Linked DNA regions of Homo sapiens: all the other regions are linked to region 2. Evidence: fine-mapped expression QTL. A gene starts in region 2. Each other region holds a variant in brackets. All regions are shown on one strand. Distances are from middle to middle.

The links. PIP is the estimated chance that this variant, and not a neighbour inherited with it, causes the effect.
Region 1: its variant is the best candidate, but not a certain one, in a credible set for the expression of TRPC4AP in unexposed skin (GTEx, PIP 0.57).
Region 3: its variant is the best candidate, but not a certain one, in a credible set for the expression of TRPC4AP in cerebellum (GTEx, PIP 0.55).

What each region holds. Positions count from the first base shown.
Region 1 is chr20:35,032,449-35,040,629 of GRCh38, reverse strand. TRPC4AP (transient receptor potential cation channel subfamily C member 4 associated protein) reads left to right here. Exons shown (of 19, transcript NM_015638.3): 8 at 5,322-5,507. Among named protein-coding and RNA genes, the nearest start is that of MIR499B, 46 kb to the right of the region's middle. The variant A/TTCTCTA (reference allele first, on the strand shown) is at 4,805.
Region 2 is chr20:35,088,995-35,097,175 of GRCh38, reverse strand. It overlaps TRPC4AP (transient receptor potential cation channel subfamily C member 4 associated protein), which reads left to right and starts at 4,369. Exons shown (of 19, transcript NM_015638.3): 1 at 4,369-4,562. The coding sequence starts at 4,395. RefSeq lists silencers at 705-834, 4,468-4,597 and an enhancer at 6,124-6,683.
Region 3 is chr20:36,070,173-36,078,353 of GRCh38, reverse strand. It overlaps the pseudogene HMGB3P2. Among named protein-coding and RNA genes, the nearest start is that of NORAD, 23 kb to the right of the region's middle. The variant T/ATTTT (reference allele first, on the strand shown) is at 4,355.

The DNA of each region.
Region 1 (8,181 bases), 57 kb after region 2:
CCGTCTCCAAAAATAAATAAATAAAATAAAAGATAAGCCGTCTGCAAGCTGGAGAACCTGAGAAGCCATTAGCATGGCTCAGTCCAAGTCCGGAAAACTTAGAACCAGGAAAGCTAATGGTGTAGCTCCCCGGCTGGAGGACCCCAGAAACTGCTGGTGCAAGTCTCAGAGACCAAAAGCCAAAGATCCTGGAGTCTGATATCCAAGAGCAGTAGGAGAAAAACTTCCCACTCCAGAAGGGGGAGAATCCCTTTTTGTTTTCCTCCATCGCCTCCCACTGCTCCCCCACCAATTGGATGGTGCCTGCCCACATTGAGGGCAGATTTTCCCTTAGTTCACACACTCATACACCAATCTCTTCTGGAATCACCTTCACAGACACACCCAGAAACAGTGCTGTGCCAGCCATGTAGGCATCCCATAGTCCAGTCAAGTTGACAGCTAAAATTAACCATCACACCACCGCATTCCCTAAAGGGCCTGTTTCAAAACGCAGTCATATTTAGGGCTAGAGCTTCAACGTATGAATTTGTGGGGGCGCGGGGGGTGGGGACACAGTCCATAACTGTATGGAAAGCTGAAATATGTAGGATGTTGCCAAAAAGTTTTCGTTTCGTTTTTAATAAACTGTGGCTGTGAGGTCATTTTCTTGTCTAGCAAAAATAATGATTTACACTATCTTCCTGGGGCTCAGATAATTTACATGTAATTATCTAATGTAAATTATCTGAGCCCCAGGAAGATAGCGTAAGTCATTATTTTTTGAGATTCATTTTAAAATAAATAATTATTTTTTGAGTCCTTTTTGAGATTCTCAGAACTACCAGTTGTTCTTCTGTCGATTTAGAAGAGAACAGCTGGTTTCCTTCTGGGGGAAAGTAACGTCTTTCAAGATTCTTAGCAGAGATGTAAATGAAGCTATAGGCTAGATAATTGTCAATTTATAAGTGACACTTAGCTGAGAGGGGCTGAATTATGCAGCACATGAAGCTGGAAAGCAGGAGGGGAAACTACAGGAGTATGGGGGGAATACTGATGTTTCAACAGTGAGAAGAGAGAAGAGGCCTGCTTCTGCAGAAATTCTCAGGGGTTGTGAGTGATTTAGTTGTCAGTTTAACATTAACCAGCCAGGTGTGGTAGCTACTGATAAAGCTGTGAGAATTACAAGGACTGGATATGCTGGGATGTCAGCCCATGAGATTGTGTATGAGTTGCTAGGTATGATTGGTCCAGTGAATTTTTTTCTGGGGAGAAGGTCTTAGCTTTTATTAGCTTTTCAAGAGGTGAGTGACTCACAACAGCTCAAGAATCTCAGGTGGGAAGTCAGACTTAGAACCCTGAGTACCGGGCACTTCCCATCTGGAGGAGTGTGTTGAGTGTGCAGGAATGGGGAAGACTAGCTCCTACATGCTGTCCTGAGAGGAGCAGGTCAAGCAGCAGGAGCTATTTTTGCTGAGAACAGAAGTATAAGAGTAAAAATCCAGCTATGTGAAGATTTTCATGTAGAATACAAATTCTTTTTATTTCTTTTTTGTTTTTTTTGCTTTGTTTTATTTTGAGACACAGTCTGGCTATGTTGCCCAGGCTGGAGTGTAGTGGCACAATCTTGGCTTACTGCAACCACCACTTTCTGGTTCAAGCGATTCTCGTGCCTCAGTCTGCGAAGTAGCTGGGACTACAGGCATGCGCCACCAGGCCCGACTAATTTTTTTGTATTTTTAGTAGACATCGGTTTTGCCATATTGGCCAGGCTGGTCTTGAACTCCCAAACTCAGGTGATCCACCCACCTCGGCCTCCCAAAGTGCTGGGATTACAGGCATGGGCCACCATGCCCCGCCTACTGATTTGTTTTTAGAAAAAATAATACACACCTAAAATTTTTTTTAAATGATACAAAAAGTACAGCAGAGAGTTTGTTCCCCTCCCTGTGGTAACTTTTTACCAGTTTCTTAAACGTCCTTCGAAAAATATTCTATACATGCCCAATCATGGGACGGGGGAAGGAGGGAGGGACAGAGAGAGATTGACTCCTGTTTGTACAGATGGTAATGTAAATAGGTAATATAAAATAAGTGCTGCTCTCTTTTTATTAAACTTATCTTGCCAAAAATTACACTCTAGTATATATAGAATTATATGATTCCTTTTTGTAATTATATAATATTCTATTATACAGGCATACTGTAATTTAATTAGTCCCCCATTAATGGAAATTGGTAAGTGTTGACAAATTAACCCTCCAAAGAAATTACTTGTTCATCTTCCCCACCGTGTTGTCTGTAGCCTTTCCCAGTACAGAGCATTATCAAACTTTTTTATATTTGCCAAGCTGATATGTTAAAAAAAAAAATGGTGTCTCAAACAAAAATCTATTTCTGTGTAATTATTTTATGGAGATGGAAGTCACGTAACATAAAATTAGCCGTCTTAAAGTGAACAACTCAGCGGCATTTAGTACATTTACAGTGTTGTGCAGCTACCACCTCTATCTAGTTGCACGTTTTCATCACCCCAAAAGGAAACGCCGTACACATTAAGCAGCTTCTTCCCATTACCCCTTCTCCCCAACTGCTGGCAACCACCATTCTGCTTTTTTCTCTGTGGATTTACCTATTCAGATTACTTCATATACAGTCATGTTGTCACTTAGCAGTCTCTATCCTTCTGAGAAATGCAGTGAGGTGATTTTGTCATTGTGTGAATGTCATAGAGTGTACTTGCACAAACCTAGCTGGTATAGCCCATGATACACTTAGGCTGCAAACCTGTACAGCATGTTTCTGTACTAAATACAGTAGGCAGTTGTACCATAATGGTAAGTATTTGTGTATCTAAACATAGAAAAAAGGTATAGTAAAAATACAGTATTATAATCTGATGGCACCACCGTCTTCTGTGTGGTCGTTGTTGACCGCAACAGCGTTAATGCAGTGCATAACTGTAAATGGAATCATATAGCATGTGGCCTTCTGAATCTGGTTTCTTTCACTTGGCATAATGTTTTTGTGGTTCATTAATGTTGTAGCATGTCAGTACTTCATTCCTTTATATGGCTGAATAATACTCATCATGTAGATACCACAGTTTGTTTATCCCTTCAGTTAATGGACATTTGGGATATTTTCATCTTTTGGCTGTTGGGAATAGTGCTGCTATGAACATGTGTGTACACATATTTGTGTGTGCACCTGTTTTCAATTCTTTTGGGTATATATGTAGGAGTGAAATTGCTGGGTCATATGGTAATTTTATGTTTGACTTTTTTTTTTTTTTTTTTTTTTTGAGACAGAGTCTCGCTCTTTCGCCCAGGCCGGAGTGCAGTGGCGCGATCTCCGCTCACTGCAAGCTCTGCCTCCTGGGTTCACGCCATTCTCCTGCCTTAGCCTCCCAAGTAGCTGGGACTACAGGCGCCTGCCACCGCGCCCAGCTAATTTTTTGTACTTCTTAGTAGAGATGGGGTTTCACCGTGTTAGCCAGGATGGTCTCGATCTCCTGACCTTGTGATCCACCCGCCTCGGCCTCCCAAAGTGCTGGGATTACAGGCGTGAGCCACCGTGCCTGGCCAACTTTTTGAGGAACCTCAATGTAGTTTTATTTTATAACTAAGGTCAAACATCATCTTATAGCCACTCACTAATTATGGGAGGGGTGTGTGTGTGTGTGTGTGTTTGTGTGCGCACGCGTTGAGACAGAGTATCACTCTTGCCCAGGCTGGAGTACAGTGGTGCAGTCTCAGCTCACTGCAACCTCTGCATCCCAGGTTCAAGCAATTCTCATGCCTCAGCCTCCTGAGTAGCTGGGACTACAGGCGCACGATACCACGCCTGGCTAATTTTTGTATTATTGGTAGAGATGGAGTTCGCCATGTTGACCAGGCTGGTCTTAAACTCCTAGCTTCAAGTGATCCACCCACCTTGGCCTCCCAAAGTGCTAGGATTACAGGCATGAGCCACCGTGCCTGGCCAGCTTGTCTTACTTTATCTCTACTCCCATTCACTATACCCTACTTCACCTTGGGTTATTTTGAAGTAAACCCCAGACATCGTATAATTTCACCTGCATATATTTCAGTGTTTCTACATGATAACGACTTTTAAGAAACGTAACTGCCACTGTATCAAAAATTAATAGTAATCCCTTGATATCCTGAAATATCTAGTTATTTATTAATTTTTAATTAGGTGTAACATTCACATGGTTCCAAAAAATCTGCGGATTCAAAAAGGTATTTATTGAAAAGTTTCAGTTCCACTGTTACTCTCAGTGACCTAAATCCCCTTTTCCACTTGACGGACATTTTGGCTGTTTCCATCTTATGGCTGTTTACTGTGGCAGCCACTGCTCTTGGCTTCTTTTCTGTCCTTCCAGGGAGACTTAATGCATATACAGGCAAACATGATCAGGCATTAGTCTCATTTTAAAGAAGGTTAAATGATGGAGTCAGGATTTGAATCTGGATCTCCCTGCCTCCAAAGTTTATGATGTTCTAATATGCCGATCAGAATTTCCACCTCACTCATTGTGAATAAAATGAGATTGGTGGAAAGAAAAATTGGGTGATTATTCAGTTTTTTTCTTTACCTTAAAAAAATGTTTATCTTTCATCCTGCTAGTAAATGTTACAGGAAAATTAGAAACTATAGATGAGTAATTTTAAGAGAATTGTTTGTATTCTCTCCTGCTTAGGAACAGCCACAGTAAATTCCTTGGTATATATGCTTTCATTCCTTGTGTATTTTGAAGAAGCAAATATTTAAATTTTTGAAGAAAATTAAATTCATATTGTTTAATAATTTACTCTCT[A/TTCTCTA]ACAAGTAAACAGCTGTTTTGAGTCACTATATAAAGATGTATGTGTCATCATTCTTAGTGTCTATGCAGTATTCCATTGTATAAATGTGTCATTGTATTTAATTAATCAGCTGTTGATGAACATTTAGTTACCTTCACCTTTTTGCTGTTACAGAAACCACATCAGTGAACCTCCTTATACAGATATTCTCGTGTAATATGACTGGTTATTTCGTTATGGTAAATTCCCAGAAATTGACCTCTTGGCTCAAAGACACACACATTTAAGGCATAAAGATTATTCTAATTTATATTCCCAGTAGATAAAAAGCCTGTTTCCCTGTACCTGCTAAAAACTGAGCTTATGCCTGTAACATAATTACTATTTACCTTGGTTTGACATTCATTTTAAAAGAGTAGCTTTAGCTACTATCAGAGTAAGAATTATTCCTATCATGCAGATTGTTTGTTAGGGCTTTAGGGGTAGTTTTGCTGGTCTCTATTTTGAAAATTTCCTCGCTTGTTCTTTCCCTGGCAGCGGCCCTTCTCAGCATTCCTGGCTTTGTTGAGCGGCTTTGCAAACTGGCGACTCGAAAGGTGTCAGAGTCAACGGGCACAGCCAGCTTCCTTCAGGAGTTGGAAGAGTGGTACACATGGCTAGACAATGCTTTGGTGCTAGATGCCCTGATGCGAGTGGCCAATGAGGAGTCAGAGCACAATCAAGGTATGGAAGGATGGGTCCCCTGAGTGATCGGGAGCTTTTCCTTGGGCGCCTGGGACCATTCTTGCTCTTCTTTCCAAGAAGGATTAATTTGAGATTTGCTCAGAGTAGAATTGTCCTCAAGGCAATTCTAGACCATGACTATTAAGACTCTTTTGACAGCTTGTTACAGAAACTTCATTGAACTCCCCAAAGTGGACCTGATTTCAGGGAGAAGGGCTTTGTTGCAGACCTGAGACAGCTGTGTCTCAGGGACTAACAAGAACCAGTAACCAGAGCATTCTTAGGAACCTAGAAACTTCTCTCCTCGTCTCTTTTTCTTTCTACAGTGTTTCTTAGTCTTCTCTCTCACTGTACCCTACCTTTTCCTGGTCCCCTTGATGGGACTAGGCAGAAGACTGCCTATTAAATAAGAAGACTCCCAGTCTCAGCTCCAGCTTCCTGGTAAAGAACTCTGGCCCATCTTTGGTTAGGTGCCCAGCCTTAAAGCATTTGACTCTGGCCAGCAGGTTCAGAATATACAAACCCAGGAATTCTCAGCTCCCAAACAAGGAATAGGTTTCTCATTGGGAGTGGGGGGCCATCAGCTTTTCTTCTTCCCTCCAGCTCCAAATTGAAGAGACTAAGTTCTCGGTGAGTATGGCAAAGAGGTCAGAGGCTTCCTTCCTCCACCCAGCTCCATACTGTACTCACGGTGTGGAAGCTCTATCCCACATACTTGAGGCCAAGAATTCTATGGCTCTGATCACCTTTGCCCTAGCTTGCTCATGTACAGAGGTTTTACACTGGGAGAGGCAAGCCCGGAAGACTAGAGGCTACTGACCCTGCTCTGAGAATTTGCCCACAGAGAGAGGCAGTTAATAAGAACAGAGTCCAGGGAAGTTCATGCCTGAGGAGATTTTGATGGTAAGCAAATAAAAAGAGGTACCTCTTCTTTTTTTTTACTCTTTTTTTTTTTTTTTTTTTTTTTTTTTGAGACGGAGTCTCGCTCTGTCGCCCAGGTCGGACTGCGGACTGCAGTGGCGCAATCTCGGCTCACTGCAAGCTCCGCTTCCCGGGTTCACGCCATTCTCCTGCCTCAGCCTCCCGAGTAGCTGGGACTACAGGCGCCCGCCACCGCGCCCGGCTAATTTTTTGTATTTTTAGTAGAGACGGGGTTTCACCTTGTTAGCCAGGATGGTCTCGATCTCCTGACCTCATGATCCACCCGCCTCGGCCTCCCAAAGTGCTGGGATTACAGGCGTGAGCCACCGCGCCCGGCCTTTACTCTTTTATTTTTTATATTTTCTCTTTTTTGAATAGAGACGGGTTTTGCCATGTTGGTCAGGCTGGTCTCAAACTCCTGGCCTCAAGTGATCCACCCTCCTTGGCCTCCCAGAGTGCCAGGTTTATAGGCATGAGCCACTGTGCCTGGCCAGGTACCCTCTTCTTAATTAAGAACAGGGTGATCTACAGGCCAGCTAGTTCACCAGAGAACCAGGGAAGGAGACAGCTGAGAAGAACTCTCCCAAGGTCAGAACAAAGCTCAATTTCAAAAATTACCCCTTCCTGAATTTAATTGAATTAGACTTTGGAGCAGTGTATACTCCAGGGCATTATCAAAAACAGTCGAGAATTCAGTCAGCAGTTAGTAGAGCCTAACAGCTGGATGTGATACCAGAAGAGGTAGAAAGCTTAACAGAGAGATCATGGAAAGAGCTAGTCAAAGACAGCCTGGCTCAATGTCATCCCAGGGAGACTCTGTACATGCCCAAGGTTGCACTCTCTGAGGCACAACATGAAAATCTTCACCAGTCTTTGGGGAAGGAGACTTTACGAAAATAGTCTAACCAAGTCACTAAACTAATAAATAAGCAAATAACAACAACAAACCCTGAAGGAGGGGGAATCAGTATCCAGAGTTGCTACAGTATATTACTTAAAATGTCCTTTTTTGAGATGGAGTCTCTTGTCGCCCAGGTTGGAGGGCAGTGGCACAATCTCGGCTCACTGCAACCTCTGTCTCCCATGTTCAAGCAGTTCTCTCTCAGCCTCCCGAGTAGCTGGGGTTACAGGTGCATGCCACCACACCCGGCTAATTTTTTGTATTTTAGTAGAGAAAGGATTTTACCTAGTTGCTGGTATTGAACTCCTGAGCTCAGGCAATCCACCCACCTTGGCCTCCCAAAGTGCTAGGATTACAGGCGTGAGCTACCACACCCAGCCTAAAATGTCCAGTTTTTAACAAAAATTGAGACATACACACAAAAAACAGGAAGTGTAACCTATACACAAGAAAAAGCAGGCAACAGAAATTTCCTGTGAAAGGGTCCAGATACCAGATTTAACAGCAGCCATTAAAAATATGATCAAAGGGCTGGGCGCGTTGGCTCACACCTGTAATCCCAGCACTTTGGGAGGCTGAGGCGGGCGGATCACGAGGTCAGGAGATCGAGACTATCCTGGCTAAGACGGTGAAACCCCGTCTCTACTAAAAATACAAAAAATTAGCTGGGCGTGGTGGCAGGCGCCTGTAGTCCCAGCTACTGGGGAGGCCTGAGGCAGGAGAATGGCGAGAACCTGGGAGGCAGAGGTTGCAGTGAGCCGAGATCCTGCCACTGCATTTCAGCCTGGGCGACAGTGCGAGACTCTGTCTCAAAAAAAAAAAAAAAAAAAAAAGATCAAAGAACTAAAACTA
Region 2 (8,181 bases):
GCAAAGGGTATATGAGTGTTAATGGTGTATCTTTTAACTTTCTGTAGATTTGAAAAACTTCCCCAAAAATGCTGCGAGAATAATAAGATAGTGCAAAGAAAGTGCTTGGCCAATGGTAAGTGCTCAATAAAGGGTAGATCTTACCCAGAAGTATAAGCCCCATGAGGGCAGGAAATTTTGTTTATTTTATTTAGCACAATATCCACAGCACCTATAACAGTGCCTGGCACATAAGATAGTACTTAACAAACATTTAAAAGACAAATCATGGAGAGGTTGTACATTAGAAATGTAATGTAAAAAAAAATCACTGTAAAAAATGACACCACAGGACAATGCATAGTTGCATGGGACAGCTGTTACCATGGCCTGATATAACAGTGCCAGTTGCTTTGATTAAAGTGACTTCTTGGCAGGGTGCCATGACTCATGCCTGTAATCCCAGCACTTTGGGAGGCTGAAGCGGGAGGATTGCTTGAGCCCAGGAGCTTGGCGGCTGCAGTGAGCTATAATCACACCACTGTACTCCAGGCTGGGCCACAGAGCAAGACTTCAAAAAAAAAAAAAAAAAAAAAAGTCCCAGAAAATCTGTCTGCCCAATTGAGATGAGTTTGGCGATTTATTTACAAGAGTTAATGTTCTCTGAATAGCATCATCATGTTTGGTTAAGCCATTTGGGATTACGGTGGAAAAAAAATTAGCCAGTTTGGGAGCTTCATTTTTTTTCTAGTGCTGATTAAAATTGACATCAACAGACCTCTGGTGGGAGAGGTACTTCGCCCTCTGGTGGTGAGAGACACTCAGCTTTTTTTTTTTTTTTTTGAGACAGAGTCTTGCTCTGTGGCCCAGGCTGGAGTGCAGTGGCGCGATCTCGGCTCACTGCAAACTCCGCCTCCCGGGTTCAAGCAATTCTCCTGCCTCAGCCTCCAGGGCAGCTGGGACTACAGGCGCGCTTCACCCCGCCCAGCTAATTTTTGTGTTTTTGGTAGAGACGGGGTTTCACCATATTGACCAGGCTGGTCTCGAACTCCTGACCTCGTGATCTGCCCGCCTCGGCCTCCAAAAGTGCTGGGATTACAGGCCTGAGCCACCGCGCCTAGCCTCAGCTAGTTTCTACGGAAAAGGCTGGCAGAGCAGAGGTGAAGTGGAAAAGAGTGTCTTTCCACAGAGGTTTCTGGAAACATGTCCCCTTACTTCATGGTCACATGGTATCTGTAAGGACTGAATTTGAGGTTGTCATTTTTGACCCAGTGAATACCCAGCTTTGGTGAATGCCTGGGCCAGGCTAGACTGACAAAGATAGGAACTGAGGAATGGAAAGTGACATTTGCAGTTGGGTCAAAGCTGAGGTGGGAAGATTTGTCCCTAGCATGATGAGTGCCAAGGGAAACCTGGAGGGCCATGTGAACTGTGAAATTAGTCAGGATCCTGTCTCCTCACCGCGACAAGGGTGAGAATATCCATCACCATATGCCTCAGGAAGAGCTCTGGGTGGAATCCCTGGGCTGTGGATTCCCTGGTAAGGCTGGCTGCTGCCCGGACAGCTCACCAATGCCCTGTTTGTATCCCTGGAAATGCCTTTTCTTTTTATGTCTTTTTAAAGTTAATTTCACATATTAGAAGACTTTTTTTTCTTGAATCTAGAAATGATACATAGCTGGTGCAAAAAGTTATGAAAAGTATTGTTATTGAACCAAAGTGAGGGCTGCTTACCTGGTGCAGCAAAGCCACTGACATTGGGATTACAGCAAGAGAAAGTGAGGCATTTATTATTGCACTTGCTGCAGGGTGCCAAGCGAGGAGAATCAAACAGCTTATGCTTAAGACCTGAACTCCCTTATGGCTTACAGGGGTTTTATTTTATTTTTTTGAGACAGAGTCTTGCTCTGTCGCCCAGGCTGGAGTGCAGTGGTGCAATCTCAGCTCACTGCAACCTCTGCCTCCTGGGTTCAAGCGATTCTCCTGCCTCAGCTTCCCGAGTAGCTGGGATTACAGGCACGTGCCACCATGCCTGGCTAATTTTTGTATCTTTAGTAGAGACGGGGTTTTGCCGTTTTGGTCAGGCTGGTCTCGAACTCCTGACCTCAGGTGATCCACCTGCCTCGGCCACCCAAAGTGCTGGGATTATAGGTGTGAGCCACCGCGCCCAGCCGGCTTACAGGTTTTTAATGGCAGGAGGGCAGAGGCCACAGGCGAAGTCATAAATCAATACATAGGGGCTGTATATTGGTTCCACCTAAAAAGACAGGACATCTCCAACCAGGGGCCCACAAGTGGATTCAAAGATTTTCTGACTTGTAATTGGTTAAGGAGGTAAAGCTTTGTCTAAAAATTTGGGATCTGCAGAAAAGAATGTTAGCTCTGACTTATGGTCGTGTCCTCCTCCAGGCCCCCTAGGAAGAAATTTATAACAAAAAATAGAAGTCAAAGTTTAGTTCTCAGCTCTCCCTTATCTGAGTTTGCCTATCAGCAGATCCATTTGGTGGGGGTTCGAGTTTCTAAGAAACAACACTCAGGGACAAATTTTAAGATGTTATATTCAGTTTCTATAGGGAACAAAATATCTCCTGACTGTAACTTCTTTGGCTATTTTTTTTTTTTTTTCTGAGATGGAGTCTCATCCTGTCATCAAACTGGAGTGCAGTGGCGTGATCTCGGCTCACTGTGACCTCTGTCTCCAGGGTTCAAGTGATTCTCCTGCCTCAGCCTCCCAAGTAGCTGGGACTACAGGTGCATGCCACCACGCCCAGCTAATTTTTGCATTTTTAGTAGAGATGGGGTTTCACCATGTTGGCCAGGCTGGTCTCGAACTCCTGACCTCATGATCTGACTACCTCGGCCTCCCAAAGTGCTGGGATTACAGGTGTGAGCCACTGGGATTACAGGTGTGAGCCACTGCACCCGGCTGAGTTTATTTTTGTATAATGTGAGAGATGAGGATCCAGTTTCATTCTTCTGCATGTGGCTTGCCAGTTATCACCAGCTGTTGAATAGGGTGTCCTTTCCCCACTTTATGTTTTTGTTTGCTTTATCGAAGATCAGTTGGCTATAAGTATTTGGTTTTATACTGTGTTCTCTATTCTGTTCCATTGGTCTATGTGCCTATTTTTATACCAGTACCATGCTGTTTGGGTGACTATGGCCTTATTGTATAGATTGAAGTCAGGTAATGTGATGCCTCCAGATTTATTCTTTTTGCTTAGTCTTGCTTTGGACATGCAGGCTCTTTTTTGGTTCCATATGATTTTTAGGATTCTTTTTTCTAGTTCTATGAAGATGGATGGTGAGTCTACTCCTTTTAGATGGGGTGTGAGGATGGTAACCATAGTGCCAGTTCACCTGGGAGAGTCACTTTTATGCCTACCGTCCCGGTGTAATTATTTATTGTGTCTTTTCATTCTTTAAAGTGTTCTGGTTTGAGCAGTAAGTTACAGTCATCTTAGTTATGAGTCACAATCTTCACCATTCCCTGTTACATCACACTTAGCTCTCCTCTTTCATTTTTATTACAGGCCCCCTGCTAGGAAGGGAAAAAGTGTGTGTGTGTTGGGTGGGGGGAGTCAGTGCCATCCTGCCACAGAAGTTAGCTGAAAAAATGAGTATTAGAGACAACATGCTATCTGGTGGATAGAAATTAGGACAGGGTTTTCATCTGACAGAGAATATGATGTCACAATTTACTAATCCCTTTCCCTTCCATTATTTAATTTCACAACAACCTACCCAGTTACACAACTTATCCAGTTTGAGACTGCGTTTCTTTGTGTATGGATCTGCTGTCTTCCCCTGTAACCTGCATTTCGTGATAAAGGATCCCAGGCCGTTCTGCTCACCACTGTATCCCAGACACCCTCCCTTTCCCCTAGACATGGTTTGGTGTCGGGCGCAGAGAAAGCCCCAGGAACTACGATTGATCAGGCTCCCAGAATCTATAGATGGAGTGACCTGACGAGGACACAGGCGCAGTGGCAGAGCGCGATGACTTGGTCGATGTCCGCGGTGAGTCACGTGTAGAGAGAAGCAGGCAGGAAGCGGACTCGAGGGCCTGACTCCTGACCTGAAGCCCAGGATCATTTCTTGGCCAGCTGCCTGCATCCTGCCCAAATCGGCGAGAGAAATGGGAGAATGTGGACCTTGGGAGATTTCGCCGAAATGCTGGGCCCGGGGGCCAGAGAAACCGGCAGTGCAGGAAAGGCCACATCTCTTTTCCCACCTACCCCGCTGCCGCGCAGGACTACAATTCCCAGTAGCCTCCACGCCGCACACGGTCCCTGCCACGCGGCTTGCGCCTCCGCCGACGGCCCACTGGGGGCGCTGCGGCGACCCCTCCGCCGCCCCGTAGAAATCTCCGCGGCCCCGAGGCCGCTTGCTTCCTGTTTGTCCGACGAGGAGACATGGCGGCGGCGCCGGTAGCGGCTGGGTCTGGAGCCGGCCGAGGGAGACGGTCGGCAGCCACAGTGGCGGCTTGGGGCGGATGGGGCGGCCGGCCGCGGCCTGGTAACATTCTGCTGCAGCTGCGGCAGGGCCAGCTGACCGGCCGGGGCCTGGTCCGGGCGGTGCAGGTACGAGGCTGGACCAGGAGGGGCGGGGCGGGGCGGACCAGGCGGGAGCTGGCGGGGGGCCGGGGAAGAGGCCTTTCCAGGCCGCCGCTGGACGGGCCAAAGCCCTTTTGGCTGGCCGGAAGGCCTCCCTGTGAGCTGCCCGGACGCTCTCAGCTGCAGCGGGGCCGTGGGAAGCAGCTGGCTTGATGTCCCTTGTCAGGGGCCGAGCGGGGCTGGGCTGCTGTGGACACTGATGGCGTGTACGAACCCTGGGCCCAGTTTCTGGATCCTCCCTTCTTTGCGCCACGTCTACACGTCTGGGGGACCCTGTCGTGTTTGTTTTAGCCTCTGTGGGCCTCGAGTTTATCCCGTGTATTGGGCGTGGGGGAGGGGGTCATCATTGCAGCCCCCAAATGGTTCCCGAGCATTTCATAAATGTCATTTTCTCAGGCCTTTCCTTGACACTCTTTCCTTCCCCTTTCTAAAGTAGGTCCCCATTGTTATTCTGTCACAGCCGCGAATTCGTTTCGTTTACATTACTTTCTTAGTCTATAATTTCGTATTTCTTTGTTGTCTGCCTTTTTCTCGCCCGTCTCCCACATTAGGCTGAGTTCCAGCGGGTGCAGAGACTATATCTGGTTTGCTAGTGTAGAGCGTCACGGTTAAGAGGGACTCTGGAGTCAGGCCTGGGTTCAAAGCCCTGCTCCTCTCTCTTGCTTGGGCAGGTGACCTTTCTGTGCCTCAGTTTCCTCACTTGTAAGATGAAGATGAGAATTAGTAACCTACCTTTTAAGATTGTTGTGGAGATCAAAGGGGGCAATTGTGTAAAGCATTAGTGCATTTCTGGTGCATACTAAGGGCTGAAGGTAGTTAATATTAAGCATCTGACTTATAACAGGTGCCCAACATATGATTATTGTTATTTTTGAGTGAGCGAAGGACACTGCTTTAGGGTAAACCAGGTTGAATAGGACCTAGTCCACTACTTCTTCCACCCTCCCCCACCCCGAACCTTGCTAACACCTGTAAAACATTAGCTTTATTTAAAGACAGCTTTTTCATAAAAAGTTTGAAGGATACTCAAGAAACTGATAAAGTGGTTGGTGGGAGTGAGGTGGGAATTGGGCTAAAGGGGGAGAAAATGGGAGTGAGACTTTTCACAGTGTAACTTTATTTAAATTTAATTTGAATATCACTTCCTCAAATGACGAAAAGGATAGAATAAAATAAAGGCTAGGGGGTCTGTGTGTATGGAGGACTGTGGACGAAAGGAGCAGTTGTGAGTGAGAAATGTTTTCCTGGCCATCACACAACCATAGATGAGCAGCCTTTTTCCCCCTTGTGTTCTTAAGACCTGACTTAAGACCCTGTAATCCCAGCACTTTGGGAGGCCGAGGCAGGCAGATCGCTTGAATCCAGGAATTCGAGACCAGCCCAGGCAACACGGCAAAATCCTGTGTCTCCAAAAATTTAGCCGGGCATGGTGGTGGTGTGTGCCTGTGGGGAGGCTGAGGTGGGAGGATTACCTGAGCCTGGGAGGCGGAGATTGACAGAGTGAGACCCTGTCTCAAAAAAAAAAAAAAATCCTAGAAATACTTGCTCTTTCCTTCTTAAGCTAAGATACCTTACCGAGCTGGGTGTGTAGAGACAGGCAGAAAGAGGACTAACTTTTAGTGAGCACATAACCTTTAGAAAAAGTACGGTACAAGGCATATGTTATCTTTAATCCTCAAGCTTTTGAGTTATGCTTCAAGACTCATTTCTTAATATGGATGAGGAAACTGAGGCTCAGAGAGGTTAGATGATATGTTCCTAAACACCCATCCTGATAATCAGTGTTCTGAGAATAATAGGGAGCCACAGAAGTTCTTTAGCATGATAAATGAGGCAATTTAGGCAACTTAATTTGTTTCCAGTGCTGAATGACTTAGAATGGGAGGAGCCTAGAAAAGCCCACCAGAGGCTGGGCACAGTGGCTCATTCCTGTAATCCCAGTGCTTTGGGAGGTCGAGGCGGGTGGATCATCTGAGGTCAGGAGTTTGAGACCAGCCTGGCCAACATGGCGAAGCCCCGTCTCTACTAAAAATACAAAAATTAGCCGGGCGTGGTGGTAAGCACCTGTAATCCCAGCTACTCTGGAGGCTGAGGCAGGAGAATTGCTTGAACCTGGGAGGTGGAGGTTGTGAGCTGAGATCACGCCACTGCACTCCAGCCTGGGTGACATAGTGAGACTTCATCTCAAAAAAAAAAAAAAAAAGCTCACCAGATACAAGGCTGCTGGAATATTCTGGAGCCACAAAAGCAAGGCAGGTTATTGTGGTAACTGATGGTTGTATATAGGTGTGGGAGCTATTTCAGAAGTTGAAGTAGAGACCCCCTGCCTGGAGCTATAGTGAGGATAAAATGGGGACCTTCATCTTTCAAATATTTCTTTTCTTAGTTTTTTTTTTTTTTAATTTATTCCATGCTGTGCCCTTCCGCTCCTCTCTCCCATCCTGCAGAATAAGTTATTTGCTTACCCTTTTTTTTTTTTGAGACAGAATCTTGCTCTGTCACCCAGGCTGGAGTGCAGTGGCAAGCTCAACTTCCTGGGCTCAAGTGATCCTCCCACCTTAGCCTCCCTAGTAGCTGGGACTACAGGCGTGTGCCACCACACCCCATTAATTTTTGTATCTTTGGTAGAGACAGGGTTTTGCTCTGTTGCCCAGATTACCCATATTTTTATACTGTTATGGCATGTGGTATAGTAGGAAAAGACCAGATTTAAACATTTTTTATTTTTTATTTTTTAGACGGAGTCTCGCTCTGTTGCCCAGACTGGAGTGCAGTGGCGCAATCTCGGTTCACTGCATCCTCCGTCTCCCGGATTCAAGCAATTCTGCCTCAGCCTCCTGAGTAGCTGGGATTACAGTCGTGTGCCACCACACCTGGCTACTTTTTGTATTTTTAGTAGAGATGGGGTTTCACCATGTCGGTCAGGCTGGTCTCCAACTCCTGACGTCATGATCCCCCTGCCTTGTCCTCCCAAAGTGCTGGGATTACAGGTGTGAGCCACTGCGCCTAGCCAAAATTTTTTCATTGTAGTAAACAAATATATAATATAGGCCAGGTACATTGGCTCATGTGTGTAATCCCAGCACTTTGGGAGACCAAGATGGGATGATCACCTGAGCCAGTTTGAGTCAAGCCTGGGCAGTGTGGTGGAGCCCCAGCTCTACTACAAAAAAAAAAAAAAAAAACATTAACCAGGTGTGGAAATGCATGCCTGTAGTCCCAGCTGCTCAGGAACCCGAGGTGGGAAGATCGCTTGAGCCTGGCAAGTCAAGGCTGCAGTGAGCCATGATCACACCATTACACTGCAGCCTGGGCAACAGAATGAGACCCTGCCTCAAACTATATACATATATAAATATATATATGTAAACATAAAATTTACCATCTTAACCATTTATAAGTGTATAGGTCAGGCCCAGTGTGGTGGCTTACACCTGTAATCCCAACACTTTGGGAAGCTGAGGTGAGCGGATTGTTTGAGCCCAGGAGTTTGAGACCAGCCTGGGCAACATGGTGAAACCCTGTATCTTAAAAAAAAAAGGTGTATAGTTAAGTAATGTGAAGTATATTCCCATTGTTGTGAAAC
Region 3 (8,181 bases), 980 kb before region 2:
TGCAACCTCTGCCTCCCCGGTTCAAGTGATTCTCCTGCCTCAGCCTCCTGAGTAGCTGGGATTACAGGCGCACACCACCATGCCCAGCTAATTTTAAAAATATTTTTAGTAGAGACAGGGTTTCACCATGTTGGTGAACATGATGAGAACATTTCCAGGGGAAAACCATTTCCCTTCTGGCTCCCCAACTCCCCCATCTGCTGAGAGCTAGTTCTACTCAATAAAACCTTGCACTCATTCTCCAAGCCCACATGTGATCCAGTTCTTCCAGGTACAACAAGGCAAGAAACCCCAGGATACAGAAATCCCTCTGTCCTTGTGGTAAGGAAGGGGGTTTAATTGAGCTGGTTAACACAAGCCGCCTATAGATGGCAACCTAAAAGAGCACCCTATAACACACGCCCATTGGGGCTTCAGCTGTAAACATTCACCCCTAGACACTGCTGTGGGGTCGGAGCCCCACAGCCTGCCCATCTGTATGCTCCCCTAGAGGTTTGAGCAGCAGGGCACTGAAGAAGCAAGCCACACCCCCATTGCACACCCTTCGAGGGTTCCTGTTTCACCGTCTCTACAAAAAATTTTTAAATATTAGCCAGGTGTGGTGGTGTGTGCCTGTAGTCCTAGCTACCCAGGAGGCTGAGGTGGGAGGATCACTTGTGCCTGGGAGGTTGAGGCTGCAGTGAGCTATGATCCCAACACTGTACTCTGTCTCAAACAAACAAACAAAAATAAATACAAACGTTGTATGATTCCACTCATATGAAGTATCTAGAATAGGTAAATTCGTAGAGACAGAAATTAAAATAAATAGAGGTTACCAGAGGCTGAGGGAAGGGGAAAATGGGGAATGTTGTTTAATGGGTACAGAGTGTCTGTTTGGGATGATGAAAAAGTTCTGGAAATAGGAAGTGGTGATGATTACACTACTTTGTGAATGAACTTAATGTCACTGAATTGTATACTTAAAAATAGTTAAAATGGGTGAGGTGTGGTGGCTTACGTCTGTAATCCCAGCACTTTGGGAGGCCAAGGCTGGCAGATTACCTGAGATCGGGAGTTCGAGACCAGCCTGTCCAACATGGCGAAACCCCGTCTGTACTAAAAATACAAAAATTAGCTGGGCGTGGTGGCCCGTGCCTGTAATCCCAGCTACTCGGGAGGCTGAGGCAGGAGAATCGCTTGAAACCGGGAGGCGGAGGTTGTGGTGAGCCGAGATCGCACCACTGCACTCCAGCCTGGCGACAGAGGGAGGCTCTGTCTCAAAAAAAAAATTTTTTTTAAGTTTGCCGGGTGTGGTAGCTCACACCTGTAATCCCAGCACTTTGGGAGGCCGAGGCAGGCGGATCACGAGGTCAGGAGATTGAGACCATCTTGGCTAGCACAGTGAAACCCCGTCTCTACGAAAAATACAAAAAATTAGCCGGGCGTGGTGGCGGGTGCCTGTAGTCCCAGCTACTCGGGAGGCTGAGGCAGAAGAATGGCGTGAACCCAGGAGGCAGAGCTTGCAGTGAGCCGAGATCGCGCTACTGCACTCCAGCCTGGGTAACAGAGCGAGACTCCCTCTCAAAAAATAAAAAATAAAAAAAAAGTTAAAATGGGGCCGCCACCGCAGCGCCTGCAGAACTTTCGGGCCACGTCGCCGCCTCCTGCTGCTTCGCCTCCCAGGGCCCTCCCTCTCCTCCCCACGCCCTTCACTCCCCTCCGCCTTCCCTCCTGCTAGGCGGCCGGGAAGGAAGAAGAAATTCAGTCAGGATGGCTAAAGGTGACACCAAGAAACCAAAGGGAAAGATGTCTGCTTATGCCTTCTTTGTGCAGATGTGCAGAGAAGAACATAAGAAGAAAAACCCAGAGGTCCTTGTCAATTTTGCAGAATATTCCAGGAAGTGCTCCGAGAGGTAGAAGACCATGTCTGGGAAAGAGAAGTCTAAATTCAATGAAATGGCAAAGGCGGATAAAGTACACTATGATCGGGAAATGAAGGATTATGGACCAGCTAAAGGAGGCAACAAGAAGGATCCTAATGCCCCAAAAGGCTACTGTCTGGATTCTTCCTGTTCTGTTCAGAATTCTGCCCCGAGATCAAATCCACAAACCCTGGCATCTCTATTGGAGACGTGGCAAAAGAAAAAAAAAAGTTGGGTGAAATGTGGAATAGCTTAAATGACAGTGAAAAGCAGCCTTACTTCACTAAGGCGGCAAAGCTGAAGAAGTATGAGAAGGATGTTTCTGACTATAAGGCAAAAGGAAAGTTTGATGGTGCAAATGGTCCTGCTAAAGTTGCCCAGGAAAAGGTGGAAGAGGAAGATGAAGAAGAGGAGGAGGATGAGGAGGAATAAAGAAACTGTTTATCTGTCAAAAAATAGTTAAAATGATAAATTTTATGCTATGTATATTTTATCCATAAAAAAGTAAAGCTAAAGAATTAGGGAGCCCCTGCCAACTGGGAAATAAAAATTAAGCAGAAGCTGGGCACAGTGGCTCACACCTGTAATCCCAGCACTTTGGGAGGTCAAGGCAAGAGGATCATTTGATCCCAGGAGTTAGAGACCTGCCTGGGCAGCATAGTGAGACCCCCCCCCCCCATTTCTATAATTATAGAAATAAATAAAAATGTTAAAAAATTAAGCAGAGTAAAAACAAAAACACAAACACGATAACTAACAGTTGTATTCATTTCTTAGCTTATCTAAGAATAATTGGGAGCAAATTCCTTCAGATATTCCAAGATTGCTGGATTTACTTAGGATTCATCTATACTGTGTTGCTCATGATCTTCCCACATATTCGTGATCACTTTGAGTATGGGACACTAATTGTCTTCACCTTTAGCAGAGCAAAGAGCAAATGATAGGCAAATGTTCTTGGGGGGAAAAATGGAGGAACCAAAATACCCTTTTTTGAACAGGTATAGAACTCCCATCGGATTTATGTAGCTAAGCATAGAAGGTGGAGCTCAGTTCTCTGCTTCTAGTTGAGGACAGAATCAGCAGATATTGTGACAGAAGAGAATTAGATTGGTTAAGAGGAAACCTTCCTGGGAGTCCTTTTACCACTGTAGAATGAGAGGATTGGACCAGGAATATCTAACACCTCTCTACCTCTAACAGTACATGACTCTGTTTCTTAAAAAATGAATAGGAATTCACACTGGCCGAGTGCCTGTGGCTTGTATGGCACTGTGCCAAGTGCTTTTTTAGCTTTAGCTTACTCTACTCTCACGAGCCCAGGAAATTAGTATTGCAACCCCCATTTTATATACAAGGAAATAGGCTCAGGTAACTTACATAACTTATTCAAAATACCAGAGCTAGGAAGAAGCACAACTGAGGACCAAGGCCTGGGATGTCTGACTTCAAAGTCTTATGCTCCCTCTTAGGCTATGCTACAGAGTTTTCCTTTGTGGAGATATTTGGGAAGAGGAGAGAGTTGACTCTGGGCTACGGCCTGGGCCACCTCCTGCTCAAAAGCAGGATGCCAGCTGGGCGCAGGGGCTCACACCTGTAATCCCATCACTTTGGGAGGCTGAGGAGGGAGGATCACGAGGTCAGGAGTTCGAGATCAGCCTGACCAACATAGTGAAACCCCATCTCTACTAAACATACAAAAATTAGCCAGGTATGGTGGCACACACCTGTAATCCCAGCTACTCAGGAGGCTGAGGCAGGAGAATTGCTTGAACCCGGGAGGCGGAGGTTGCAGTGAGCTGAGATCGTGCCACTGCACTCCAGCCTGGGCAACAGAACGAGACTCTGTCTCAAAAAAAAAAAAAAAGCAGGATGCCTTGGAGCTGCTTCTCCCATCGTTATGTCAGAGCCAGGGACGGGGTGCTGCTGATACTGCCACTCCCCAGAAATTGAGCTGGAAACTCTGCCCATCAATCTTCAAAGCCCTTTGCAGGTGCTTACCTGCTCTTGTAAATCACAGGACCATTCATTTCCCAGGTGAAGAGGTTGCAGCCCTAAGAGAATAAAAGAGACTTGGCCAGGAAAGGACAGCACCCCTTGACAGAGGTTTTGAATCCACTTTCATCGTTTTGAATCCACTGACCTAGAATGGGAAGAAGAACAACAACAAAAAAACCAAACCAAGTTACAACGGAAAACACATTGATGTGGGTGAAGGATCTCATGCTTAGGCTTTACCAGAGGACATGCCAGAACAATTTCCCATCAGTCCTGGTCTTCTCGCCTCCAGTCCATTCCATACCTTGGTGGCCTGATTAGTACTCCCAAAGCACAACTTCAACAAGCGCACTCTCAGTTCAAGAGACAAGTTCAAACTCCACAACTTGGTATTTGAGGCCCTCCATGGTGCACCTCTCTCTCTCTCTTTCTTTTTATTTATTTATTTATTT[T/ATTTT]GGAGACAGAGTTTCGCCCTTGTTGCCCAGGCTAGAGTGCAATGGTGCAGTCTCGCTCACTGCAACCTCTGCCTCCCAGGTTCAAGCAATTCTCCTGCCTCAGCCTCCCAAGTAGCTGGGATTACAGGCATATGCCACCACGTCTGGCTAATTTTTTGTTTTCAGTAGAGACAGGGTTTCACCATGTTAATCAGGCTGGTCTCAAACTCCCGACTTCAGGTGATCCACCCACCTTGGCCTCCCAAAGTGCTGGGATTACAGGAGTGAGTCACCACGCCCAGCCACGCCTGGCTAATTTTTTATTTTGTGTAGAGACGGGTTTTCACTGTGTTGCCCAGGTTGGTCTTAAACTCCTGGGCTCAAGCAATTCTCCCACCTCAGCCTCCCAAAGTGCTGGGATTATAGGCGTGAGCCACTGCACCTGGCCTGTAGCTCTATTTTTAACTGTTACCACTCTTGAAGAGCTCCTAATCCTTCTCACTGTTCCCTATATGTGCCTCACCTTGTTCCACTACAGCAGACCTGGCAGACATGCCAGTTCTAATTTCCCTTCTTCCAGTAATAATCCCTCCCTTTTCTTCGGAGAACTCTTTGCCCTTCACTCAGAAGATAGACAGAACCCTATACCCTCCAACAGAATGTATCTTTCAGGCCACAAGGATTAATTCAAGTAGCCAAGATGGCCCCATTATAATATTCTTTGGGACTTTTCTGCTAAAGGTAGCAGGGAAGGCTGTCTCATTCTCCTCTGATCTCCCTTTTCTGGGCCTCTCTCTGGGCACCTAGCACTTTTTACCTTTTAATATGATTATTCTTATATTCTCTGTGAGACTGTCTCAACTACTGCTTTCTCCAAATGCTCAATTTTTTTTTTTTCTTTGAGACCTAGTCTCACTCTCTTGTCCAGGCTGGAGTACAGTGGCGCAATGTTGGCTCACTGCATCTCCGCCTCCTGGATTCTAGCAAGTCTCCTGCCTCAGCCTCTCTAGTAGCTAGGATTACCAGAGCATGCCACCATGCCCAGCTAATTTTTGTATTTTTAGTGGAGACATGGTTTCGCCATGTTGGCCAGGCTGGTCTTGAACTCCTGACCTCAGGTGATCCACCCACCTCGGCCTCCCAAAGTGCTGGGATTACACATGTGTGCCATCACACCCGGCCAAAATGCTTAATTTTAACAAGCACTTACTTTCTGTCTTATATGCAGATGTTGTGTTATACTCTAGGGATACAAGTTGGATAAGACATAGTCCCTTGTTGAATGGATGGATGAATAAAAATGCTCCTCTGGGCCTCACCCAGAAATCTGCCTGATACCCACTCTAAACAAAATAAAACAACTTATCACAGGGGATTTGAACAAAGGAAAATAAAAAATATAAAGTTCAAAATCATTAACCTGGCATCCAAGACCTTCTACAATCTGATTCTAATTTTGTCTACCTACCACACTCTTAGCTCTAGCCAAACTAAAGTGTTTTGTTGTCCTAGAAAACACTATGTCTCCACTTGCATGTTCGTTTGCCCAGGCTCTGGTTTTCTCCCATGGTTTCTTTTCCTGTTTTTCTCTCCCATTTGTACCTTCCTTATTCTCCATTTCATTCCACTCTTTTTCTTTCTTTTTTTTTTTTTTTTTGAGACAGGATCTCACTTTGTCACCCAGGCTAGAGTGCAATGGTGCCATCATGGCTCACTGCAGCCTCGACCTCCTGGGCTCAAGTGATCCTCCCACCTCAGCCTCCCTAGTAGCTGGGACTACAGGCATACACCACCATGTCCCGCTAATTTTTGTATTTTTGTAGAGATGGGGTTTTGTCATGTTGCCCTGGCTGGTCTTGAACTCCTGGCCTCAAGTCATCCACCTGCCTCAGCCTCCCAAAGTACTGGGATTACAGGAATAACCACTGCACTCAACCTCTTTCCTTCACTTTTACCTCCTCTCTCTCCCCTTTTCCTTCCTTTTCACTCTCCCTGAGCTTTCTTTCAATACTTCCCTCTATCACATCCTTACCTCTTAATTTTCCTCTCTCGTTTATTTCCTGACCTCCTTCCCTCTCCACCAGACTTGCCACTGCCCTCCATGATTGTGCACAGTCTCCTCCCTTTGTGGGCAAAAGACAGTATAAGCAATTGTAAGTAAGACAGCTTTTAGATCTCATCACAAGAAGCCCTCAGAGTGGGGTGGAAAGAAGAGGGGGAGAAACGGAAGGGGAAGAGATCTTAGTGGCAGAGAAGAAGCTGCCTGGAGACTGCAGGTGAATCCATGGAAGGCATCCTGCCAGTTATTTACCTCCAACCCACCCCCAGCTTTCCTTTCCTCCTTCTGATCAAAGAATTGGGAAAAATTAGAACTGCAAAAATCCTTAACATTTATTTACTCCACCTCCACAGTTTCGCAGCTGGGAAACTGAAGCATAGAAAAGGGAAACAACTAGCTAATGTCACCCAGCAAGTCAGTAGCTCAGCAGAAATGGAATCCCAGGCTTCCTGCCCCCCAGACCAGTTAAGTGTCCTTTCACCTATACAACACTTTTTTTGAGACGGAGTCTCACTCTTGTCGCCCAGGCTGGAGTGAAATGGCGCCATCTTGGCTCACTGCAACCTCTGCCTTCCGGGTTCAAGCGATTCTCCTGCCTCAGCCTCCTGAGGAGCTGGGATTACAGGCGCCCGCCACCATGCCTGGCTAATTTTTGTATTTTTAGTAGAGATGGGGTTTCACCATGTTGGCCAGGCTGGTCTCAAACCCCTGACCTCAAGTGATCCGCTTGCCTCAGCCTCCCAAAGTGCTGGGATTACAAGCATGAGCCACCGTGCCCAGCCTATACCACACTCTTAAACCTTCTTTCCTCTTGTTCCTAGTTCTTCCCCACTTACTGAACTCCTACTCCACCAGGTTTGGGATTATGTCTAAGGATTCCCAATCCCCCCCGCTAGTGAGTATAGGGGCCAGTGAAGTAGGGACAGAAGGGACAAACCACATCACTTCTAGCCTAAATCTTAGGCGCTTATTGAGTGGTGGCAGGGGATGGTGAAATGTCAATCTTGCCTGTAAGGGGCCAGTCTCCTCTTTGGAAAGCCCTGTTATAAGTGATCTGTATTGAGTTAGGGGATGCTGTGTTTCAGCTGGCCATCCTGCCAGGACCCCTCCTCACCCTTCCAGCCTAGCAGGCTGCCTAGAGACCCTATCTTACCCCGCCAGCTGCAGACTTAAAGCAGAGGCCACCCAGGCACAGGATGGTCTGTGGCTGCGGGAGGAGGTTGCTCGAGGCAGAGGGGAGGAAACGGTTTCCAGCAGCTCCGCTTTCAGTCTGCTCCTCCACTCTACAAAGGGCCACTGTCTGAGCACAGAGGGACCCTGGAGGGAGGCTTCCCAAGGTGCTCGGCAACAGGGCCGGGTTTCATCACACTGGGCCTCCAGGCCAAGTAAACATCAGAGTAGAAACAGGCCCAGCAGTTTCTGCAGACCAGCTCCTGGCTCCAGGCGGGCTCAGTGGCATCCTCACCCAGGGCTTTCCTGAGACAATAAGGAGGGCTAAGGTTATTGGCCCAATTTTATAGCTGCAGAAATAGAGAATGAGGAATGAGCTCTATCCAAGTTAATTTCCCATTACCCAAGAAGCAGACAAACATCCTACGTCCCTCTTAAGGAGCAGGAGTTTTTTACAATAACTTTTTTTTTTTTTTGAGATGGAGTCTCACTCTGTCACCCAGGCTGGAGTGCAGTGGCACTATCTCAGCTCACTGCAACCTCTGCCTCCCAGGTTCAAGCAATTCTCCTACCTCAGCCTCCCGAGTAGCTGGGACTACAGGCATGCACCACCACCACA